Regions from separate parts of the Homo sapiens genome. Here region 2 is linked to region 1. Evidence: fine-mapped expression QTL. A gene starts in region 1. The other region holds a variant in brackets. All regions are shown on one strand. Distances are between the middles of the regions.

Evidence for each region.
Region 2: its variant is fine-mapped to the expression of TANGO2 in whole blood (TOPMed, PIP above 0.99).

Annotation. Positions count from the first base shown.
Region 1 is chr22:20,018,777-20,023,154 of GRCh38, reverse strand. It overlaps TANGO2 (transport and golgi organization 2 homolog), which reads right to left and starts at 2,045. Exons shown (of 9, transcript NM_152906.7): 1 at 1,909-2,045. RefSeq lists an enhancer at 1,243-1,292 and a silencer at 1,893-2,282.
Region 2 is chr22:20,062,857-20,067,209 of GRCh38, reverse strand. TANGO2 (transport and golgi organization 2 homolog) reads right to left here. Exons shown (of 9, transcript NM_152906.7): 8 at 3,768-3,872; 9 at 46-2,668. The coding sequence ends at 2,548. Among named protein-coding and RNA genes, the nearest start is that of DGCR8, 15 kb to the left of the region's middle. RefSeq lists an enhancer at 602-1,102. The variant G/T (reference allele first, on the strand shown) is at 2,252.

The sequences.
Region 1 (4,378 bases):
CCAGCCTTTTTTATCTTTAAGCATGCATAAACTATTTTTGCAGTCTAAAAGGGAAGTTGAGAGAAAAAGGGGAAAAAGCTGTGATAACCTCAAAAAGCAGCTCAGTCTTTCTGGGGTGACCTTGTTTTCACGGAGCCCATCCTCATGGTAGGGATAGGCTTGTTTTCAAGACAGCCCAAGCCCTATGGTAGGGGCCAACAAAGGCCAGGCTCTGCCATGCTGCTGCCATGTGCTGACTGACACGTCACCAAAGGATGGGCCCTGCTTCTCATGCATCTGGAGTGTCAATGACAAGCATGGCCCTACTTCGAGAAGTCTTCCCAGCCTCCCTATCCCGGGCCATTTCTCTCCAGACCCCTTCTGGGGTCCCTGAGAAGCCCCTCATATCCCTGTGGGTGTTTTCAGAAGCAGCACCCTTGGGTGGGCACCGGGGTGCCCTCCAAGTTCGCCGTCTGGCGCAGAAGCCGGGCACAGGATCAAGTTCCCAGGACACTGCACGTGATTCCACACACTGCAAAACGTAATCAGAATGACAGCCCACAAGTGAAGACCAAGGAAGCACAAGAGGCTGGGCAGCCCAGGAAGAGCTGACAGCTGGTCACCTTAGCTCAGGGAAGGGCTATGGCCACCACACATCACAGCAGGCAGGGGCTTGGTCTGAGGGGCCTGCAGTCTGAGGACATGCAAGTAACACAAAGCTGTGTAGGGGTCAAAGGGGGTGGGGGCACCAGGGCACCCTACCCTGGACCACCAGAGCACTAGGATCCTGTGGGAACAGAGGCTCTGCTGTGTCCATCTAACAACATGGTCACCCTCTCCAGCTGCTCCCAGCCCACCCAACACAGACGCAGGACACAGACACAGGGACACTCCTAAGAGAGTGGCCCAGGAGTAGTAGAGGCACTGGGAGCAGGCCCTGGCTCTGAATGACCTTGGGAACACGATCTGCCACCTTAGCCTGAGTTTTCCTTGTATGAGCAGGACTGGATCAATGAATGCTTGCCCCAAAAGGCTGCCCAGAGGCAAATGAGCTAGCGTGAGAAAGCCTTCCAAAGAGCTACTCAGCTACCCCCTTATAGCTGCCGTCACATCTGCCTCATGGAAGAGGGCACTGTGCCCAGAGTGGCAGCAAAACAGTGGTCAGCAGGTCTAGAGCCACACGACAGTGCAAACAGGCCTGGCCAGGGCAGGGCATGTGACATTCCTGAAGAGGAAGGGGGCCTGAGGCCCAGGGACTTGTCCAAGGGCAGACGGTTCACTCTAAAGCTTGTGGTCCAGCAGGAAGCCAAGGGAGCACAGGAGAGGTGCTAGGGGCAGGGAAGGTGGGGGTCTCAGCAAACAGCCCTCTGTGCCCACTTCCTAGAGGAAAACGGGCAAAGCCCAGGCTGCTACAAAGCCCAGCGGTGGGGCAAGGACTGCCCTGAGTGCAGCCCTGCCAGCCCCTACCTCTGACGCTCTGGAGTTGGGGGTGGGGGATCTAACTACCCAAACCTCCCCAGGAAGGCCGCATCCAGGCGCAGGGATGACCCAGCACTTACTATCTACTCACACCCACATTAGCTGTCACCCTGCTGGCCCGCAGCAGGCCGCGGGTAGGGGGCAGAGTGACCGGGCGCCAGAGCTGTCCCTGATGCTGGCCAAGGCCGAGCAGCCCACACACCCTGCAGGGACCACGCAGCTCCCAACCCTGCCGATCTCAGCCTCCCCGCAGCGAGTCTGGTCCCACCTGCCAGAGTCCCTCGCATCCCGTGCCAGCGGGGATTATCAAAAACACCTTCCAGTAACGCGCGGGGCATTTTCGTCGGCCGGGATCGACGTGGTTGCCCCTGACCCAGCCGCCTGATTCTATACCATACCTCAGAAAGGGGAAACTGAGGCAGGGTGAGGAAGTGCGGCCAGCCCACCCACCTTCAAGCAGCCTGGCCCGGTCCGCGCACCCAGAGCCCAGAGCCCGGAGCCCCCGAGCCCAGGCCGGCCGGGCCACTAGCGGAGTCGGCCAGCCCCGGAGCCGCGCACTCACCGCCTCCGCCACCGCCGCCGACTTCCGGGTGCCGCGCCCGCGCGCCACCGCAGCCAGCCCAGTACCGCCCAGCCCGAAGCCGGCGCGTTCACCATTGGGCCGCGCAGCGAGGGGCGGGGCGGCGCGCCGCATGCCGGCGTCCCGTTGGCTGGGCGCGCTGTCGCTCGGAGGCTGCCACCTCCTGGCGCCCCGCCCCCGGGGCTGCGCCAAAGCTTCGGGCTGCGCGGGCGTCTGAGCGCTTCCTGATCCAGCGGCCTTCGGGGACTCCGCGGCTCCCTGCCTGCAGGGACGCCATGGGAGGTCGCAGCCGCCCCTGAGTCCATGCCCTCATGGACACCATCTGTCACCTGCTCACCCTGCGGCCTCTCTCGGAAGAGGTACAGGAATGCTCACTTCCGGACTGGCCCCCTCAGACTGCGTCCTGGTCTCCCCATCCTGTTCACTCAACCCCACCTCTGGACCTGGCCATCTTCCTCTTGGTCATCCCTTCCTTCACTTTATGGCCTCCAGGTCGGCTCTTTCCTCCCTGATGTCCCTGCCATTCCCAGTATGTACCCCCAGACCCTGGACTAGGCATTTGAGCACTATACCCTGCACACCCACCACCTCCCCCACTTCCACCCCCCAGTGTAGCCTTTGAGCTCACATCCAGGTCCAGGCCCCAGCGACGAGGGGCTGGCCCAGCTTGACTTGTGCAGGGTGAGCAGGTGGGCACTGACTGGGGCCCTCCCAACAGGACAGAGGCATTAGCTGGGACCGCTGCTCCTGTAGCCTCTGGGCTGTGCCTGGGCCTATGTGGCAGAAAGGTGGAGAGTCAAAGCCCAGAGGCTCAGGCCCTGCCTCAAAGTGAGCATTCAAAAAACTATGACATGGATGACAAAGACATTAGGGATAATGATAATGTGTAAAGCACTCTAAACCCAATGTCTGGGTCAGCAGTTCTTTCATCCCACTTTATAGATGTAAACACTGAGACTTGGAGCAGTTATGTCATTCAGTTGAAGTTGAAAAAGGTGGCAAGCAAGAGAGGCCACATTAGCTTCAACCTGTGTTGAAGACCTAGGTGCCCTGATGCCCTGCAGAAAACTGGGGCTCAGGGATGGGAAGAGCCTGGCTGGTAATCAGCAACGGCAAGAGTCTAACCTGGACCTACATGCGGGCCCGTTGTGCTCCACACTTTTGCTATCTTATCTGTGTTTCCCCTGGAACCCAACAGAACCTTTTACAAGGACTCCAGATGCCCAGGGACTCATGGCCAGCGGGCCGCAGACCCAGCCAGACATGGTTGTCTCTCCCACCATCCAGCAGTGGGATCATGTGGGGCTGGTACCAGTGATTTCCCTCTGAGCAGCCAAACCTATGCAATCTATAGGGCCAAGAGGTGGTGGTGGTGGACAAGTGGGATCTGGGGCTTGGGGGTGATGGACTGTGCCCTGGGGTTCATGGCAGCACCTGGAGAATGGGCTTCCCCAAAGCACCAGGCCATGCACCTCAAAGCTGGACATGAGTTGACCAAGGTTTCCCTTTGCCCACAAAGAGGGATGCAGTAACATGTCAGATGGTGGTTTGCATCCTGTTCTGTCATACCTTGTGGCCTTGGGCCATCCCCACCCCCAGCCATACTTTTCCCAGCTAGACAGAGCCAGAGCAGACACTCTGATCTTCTTTGTCACCACTGACACTCCAGTCTGGATGACATGCGATGCCAGGAAGCAGGTGACGGCAGATGAAATGGGTCTAGGATGGGCACCTAAGCCCTGGGATCTTGGGGCTGCAACAGGCTCACTGGCATCCAACCTCTAATTGCACACAAACTCAGATAGGAAGCTCACTACCTTCTGTGGCCACTCTTTTGATTTCAACAGCTGCCACTCTTGAAAAGTTCTTGACACCCAGCTGAAAGCATTTTCTCTCTGTGGCTTTCTCCGGGGGCCTCACAGCTGTCCGCATGGAGCTAGGTGAGAGGATGAGAGAGGGAGAACACTGGGCTACTGGTCCCTGTGGTCTCCCTTGCTGTGTTTTTCTTATCTTTTTCTTTTTTCCTTTTTTTTGAGATGGAGTCTCGCTCTGTCTCCTAGGCTGCCGTGCGGTGGTGCAATTTCAGCTCACTGCAACCTCCGCCTCCCAGGTTCAAGCGATCTCCTGCCTCAGCCTCCCAAGTAGCTGGGACTATGGGCGTCTACCACCATGCCCCGCTACTTTTTTTTGTATTCTTTTAGTAGAGATGGGGTTTTGCTATGTTGGCCAGGCTGGTCTCGAACTCCTGACCTCTGGTGATTTGCCTGCCTTGGCCTCCCAAAGTGCTGGGATTACAGGCATGAGCCACTGCGCCCAGCCTCCCTTGTTGTGTTTCTGACC
Region 2 (4,353 bases), 44 kb before region 1:
TCCTGAGCTCAAGCAGTCCTCCTGCCTCAGCCTCCCAAGGTGCTGGGATTATAGGCATGAGCCACTGTATCCAGCCTAAATGTTCCTCTTTTTATAAGGATAGCCGTCATATTGGATTAGGGCCCACACTAACGACCTCATTCTACCTTGGTTACCCCTGGAAGAACCCTATCTCCAAATGCAGTCACATTCTGAGGTACTGTGGGTCAGGACACTGATATATCTCTTTGGGGACACAACTCATAACACCAATAGAATCACCATTGAGGGCTGTTCTTCCTTAGGGGCCTCAGGCTGCTGGGGAGCCCTGGGCAGGGTGGGGGCAGAGGGACCCACACAAGAGCAGAGACTGCTCTTCCTGGGCAGGCCGGGTCTCTGGGCAGAGGTGAACATCCGGGGGGCTCTTCATGAGGGCAGGGCACCATCCAGGTTGGGGACTGGCACTGGTCACCGGCACAGGACATGGTAGCCACTGGGGCAGGTGAATGTGTTGGCAGCAAGGGCAGTGCCCCCAGCCGGGAGCCTGTTGTCCTGACTCAGAGGACACGTATGGGATGTGGGGCCTCAGTTTCTCCTCAGGCCTGGGGGTGCAGCCTGGGTCGCAGCTGGGAAACTCTTCTGAGTTCAAAGTGAGCCATGGAAGGCTCTGAGCCCAGCAAAGTGGTCTGGGCAAGAAGGGGAAGAGACGGGGAGGCCCCTGCTCCTCCCTAGGTGGACTCACATCATGTCACAATCAGGCTGGGAAGCCCTGGCGCAGGTCCACACCCACCCTGCACTCTCATGGGTCTGAAAAGGCCAAGTTAGGGGTTGGGTGCAGAGGCTTAGAAAAGTCTAGGTCTCAGCATTGGATATCCGGGACCCCCTTATACTCGGCCAGGCTCAGGGATGAAGCTCCTTAGAGCTGGCCCCAAACCAGGAGCTCCTGGGGCTGAGACAGATGCAGACCTGCTCTCCTGCCCCTCCTACCATCCCCTGGCCCCCATCATCCAACAGAAGTCCAGGCCAGCCTGCCTCCCGCTCCAGTGGGGCCTCCATTGCGACCTGATAGACCTGTATGGGTGGCTGGCCCCATAATCAGCATCTACCACATCCCACGCGCATGGGGTCTCTCACAGCGGCCCCTGCCCATGGACAGATGGACTGACCCACAGGCATCCACATGTGGTGCTGAAGAAGCCGTGAGGAAAGGGGGAGGTGGGAAGGGCCTCGTCCAGGGTGTCTGGCTGCACAGGAGACATAGCAGCTCCCACTGGCACCCTGCATACAAGGGAAAGGCCTCGAAATGCGCTCACCAAAGCCTCAGAGTTTTATTATCAGGAGCTCACATTCAGGTACAGATTCCTATGAAGTTTGCCTCACCTGGAGGGAAGAGGGAGAGAGCAGGGCTGGCTGAGATGGGGCTGCCAGAGGCATGGTCTCCAGCTGGGTAAGCGGGATTCTGAGAGCCCCTGGTGCACACGGAGCCTCCTGGCACACACAGGATTGTCTCAAACACAGAGGACCTCTGGCACACTCAAGGGCACTGAATCTAGCAATGAGTCTGCACTTCTGTTATGAGAGTGGGTTTTTCGGCCAGGCGTGGTGGCTCACGCCTGTAATCCCAGCACTTTGGGAGGCCGAGGCAGGTGGATCACCACGTCAGGAGTTCAAGACCAGCCTGACCAACATGGTGAAACCCCGTCTCTACTAAAAACACAAAAATTAGCTGGGCATGGTGGCACACGCCTGTAATCCCAGCTAATCAGGAGGCTGGGGCAGGAGAATTGCTTGAACTTGGGAGGCGGAGGTTGCAGTGAGCCGAGATCGTGCCACTGCACTCCAGCCTGGGTGACAGAGCAAGACTCCGTCTCAAAAAAAAAAAAAAGAGAGAGTGGGTTTTTCTCAGGTCTTCTCGGTGCCCAATTCCAAATGTGGCTGTCTCCTCTGCAGGAGCAGGTCTGCTTGTCAAGAGTCCAAGCACGCCTGTGTTCTGTGGCCACAGGAGAGGAGGGGCCGCTTTTAAATACAAGCCTACTCCTGTCGTTGGACCAGAACAAAGACCTACTGGCCAGAAGCACATGAGAGGTGAGAGTCGCCCTTCTGCCTTGTTCGGCATCGTGTGTGTGCACCTGTGTGTGTGTGTCTGTGCAACTGTGCATGTGTGCACATGTGTAGCACACCTGTGCACGTACATGTGCCTGTGTCGGTGTCCATGTATATGGCTTGCATGTGTGTGCTTGTGCACACGCAGGAGTGTATGTGTGTGCCATGT[G/T]AGTGCCTGTGTACATGTGCAAGAGTGGGCTCAGGTGTATCCACATGTTCATGGTATACCTCGGCCGGTCCTAGACCTAGTATCAGACTCTGCTGCTCCTCACTGGCATAAAGGCAGACCCTGAACTGGGCATGGGGACACAGATGGGTAACACGCAAACCACAGGGCCCTGATCCGGGGGATGCTGGCCAAGCCACGGGCAGTGCAATGCAGTATGGCAAAGGAAGGTTTCCTGTCCACAGTGCCCCTCAAGGCAGGGCCCCCCAGGAGCCCACTGGCCAGGCCCAGAGGTGGGGTTAGCTCTGCAGTGTGAACTCATAGGTTCTGGTCTCCCAGTGGGAGAGGTCCTTGTCCATCATGCTACGCTCAGTGAAGGTCACGTGGCCGTCCGCATCTACCAGGATGATAGTGTTGGTTCTGAAAGAGAGCAGGGGCCCTCGTTCACCTGGTGTCCCTCAGCCCTGCCCTGCCTGTCACAGCCACAAATAGGGCAAGAATGCAGGCAGGTAGAGTTAGGAACCCCATGCCTGGAGGCTGTGCCAAGTCACAGAGAGCAGCAGCCTCAGTCTTGGGGATGATGAGGGGCCATCAGTGGCGTGTGAGCTCTTGGCTGGCTCCACAGGCCCACACTTGCTGAGTCCTGCCACCTTCACTGGGAACCACCCCACCCTGCCCTGCTCTCCCCGTGTAGCATGAGCCAAGGCATAGGGCAGCCTGCGGGCTGACCACACACTTCCCCTTTGGAGGCCCAGGTTCCCAGACACAGCCATGCTTGGTTCTTCCAAGAGGTCAAGCTGTTGACCACTTGGGGCCCAGGCCTCCTCTGTCTGGAAGGCTTCCCTCCTGTGCCCTCTCTTCCACTGCCCAGGCCATGCCAGCCCACCTGAAGCAAACATTCAGCACACTCTCCTCTCCTCCAACCCTCTCTGCCGTGGGCTTTGCAGACGGAGGGTGGCCCTGGATCCCCCAACAGCCCCAGCACAGGCTGGTTCCCAGGGCAGACACATACGCAGTGCACCCCGTGGGGTGGGACCCAGCGGCTATGCGGCCTGCCAGGGAGTGGAGTTGGCACTTGCCTTCCCCTCACACACAGGAAGATGAGCCTATGACAGAGGAGGGGCTGAAGGAAATGACACCCTGCACCTGCCAATGGGCCAGCCAGCCCCAGGCAGGAAAGGCTGGCCAGCAGCCACCACCCAAGGGTACAGCCTGCAGGCCTAGTGCCATGGTGCCGGGGCGTTTGCCCGCAGGGATCCACCAATGTGCAGGCAGCCCTGAAGCCATCCTGGCCCTGTGTGGCTGTGTACTGGCTCCTTAAGCCCAGCCTGTGGGGCCCCGGGAGCCTGTGGTATCTGCTCACCCTGCAGCTGCGTCTGGACAGGGCAGAAGCTCTGGAATCCACTCAGGCGAGGAAGAAGCCTGGCTCTGGCTATGGGCACTTGGCTTCTTTGCCGGCCCTCTAGCGTGGGAGGTGGGACATGGGATAGGAGGTGGCGCACCCACGGTGCTGCAATACCTGGTGCCGTAGCCAGGGCAGCGCACGCACACAGCCGCGTACTTGCTCAGCATGGGCTGCACGTACTCCCCACCCTGGTCCTCGATGGCCGGGTCTGGCAGCTGCCTGCAGGATGGAGAGAAGTGGTGGCCATTAGTCCCTCTGTGGCCCGCCCGCAGCCGGGTCTAGCCCCAGCCCACCTGGTGGCCTAACTGGCTCTGGGGAGTGGCCGGGGAACTGCAAGGGTTGTTTCTTTTCTTCTTTTCTTTTTCCTCTTCTCTTCTCTTTTCTCTTATTTTCTTTTTTTGAGGAGGAGTTTCACTCTTGTCGCCCAGACTAGAGCGCAATGGTACGATCTTGGCTCACTGCAACTTCCACCTCCCGAGTTCAAGCAATTCTCCTGACAGAAGTCCACTCAAGCCAGCCATTGTAGCTAGCATCGGGGCTCCAGCCGTCAGCTGGGATTACAGGCGTGCACCACCCAGCCATCTAATTTTGTGTTTTTAGTAGAGACAGAGTTTCACCATGTTGACCAAGTTGGTTTTGACCTCCTGACCTCAGGTGATCCGCCCACCTCGGCTTCCCAAAGTGCTGGGATTACAGGCGT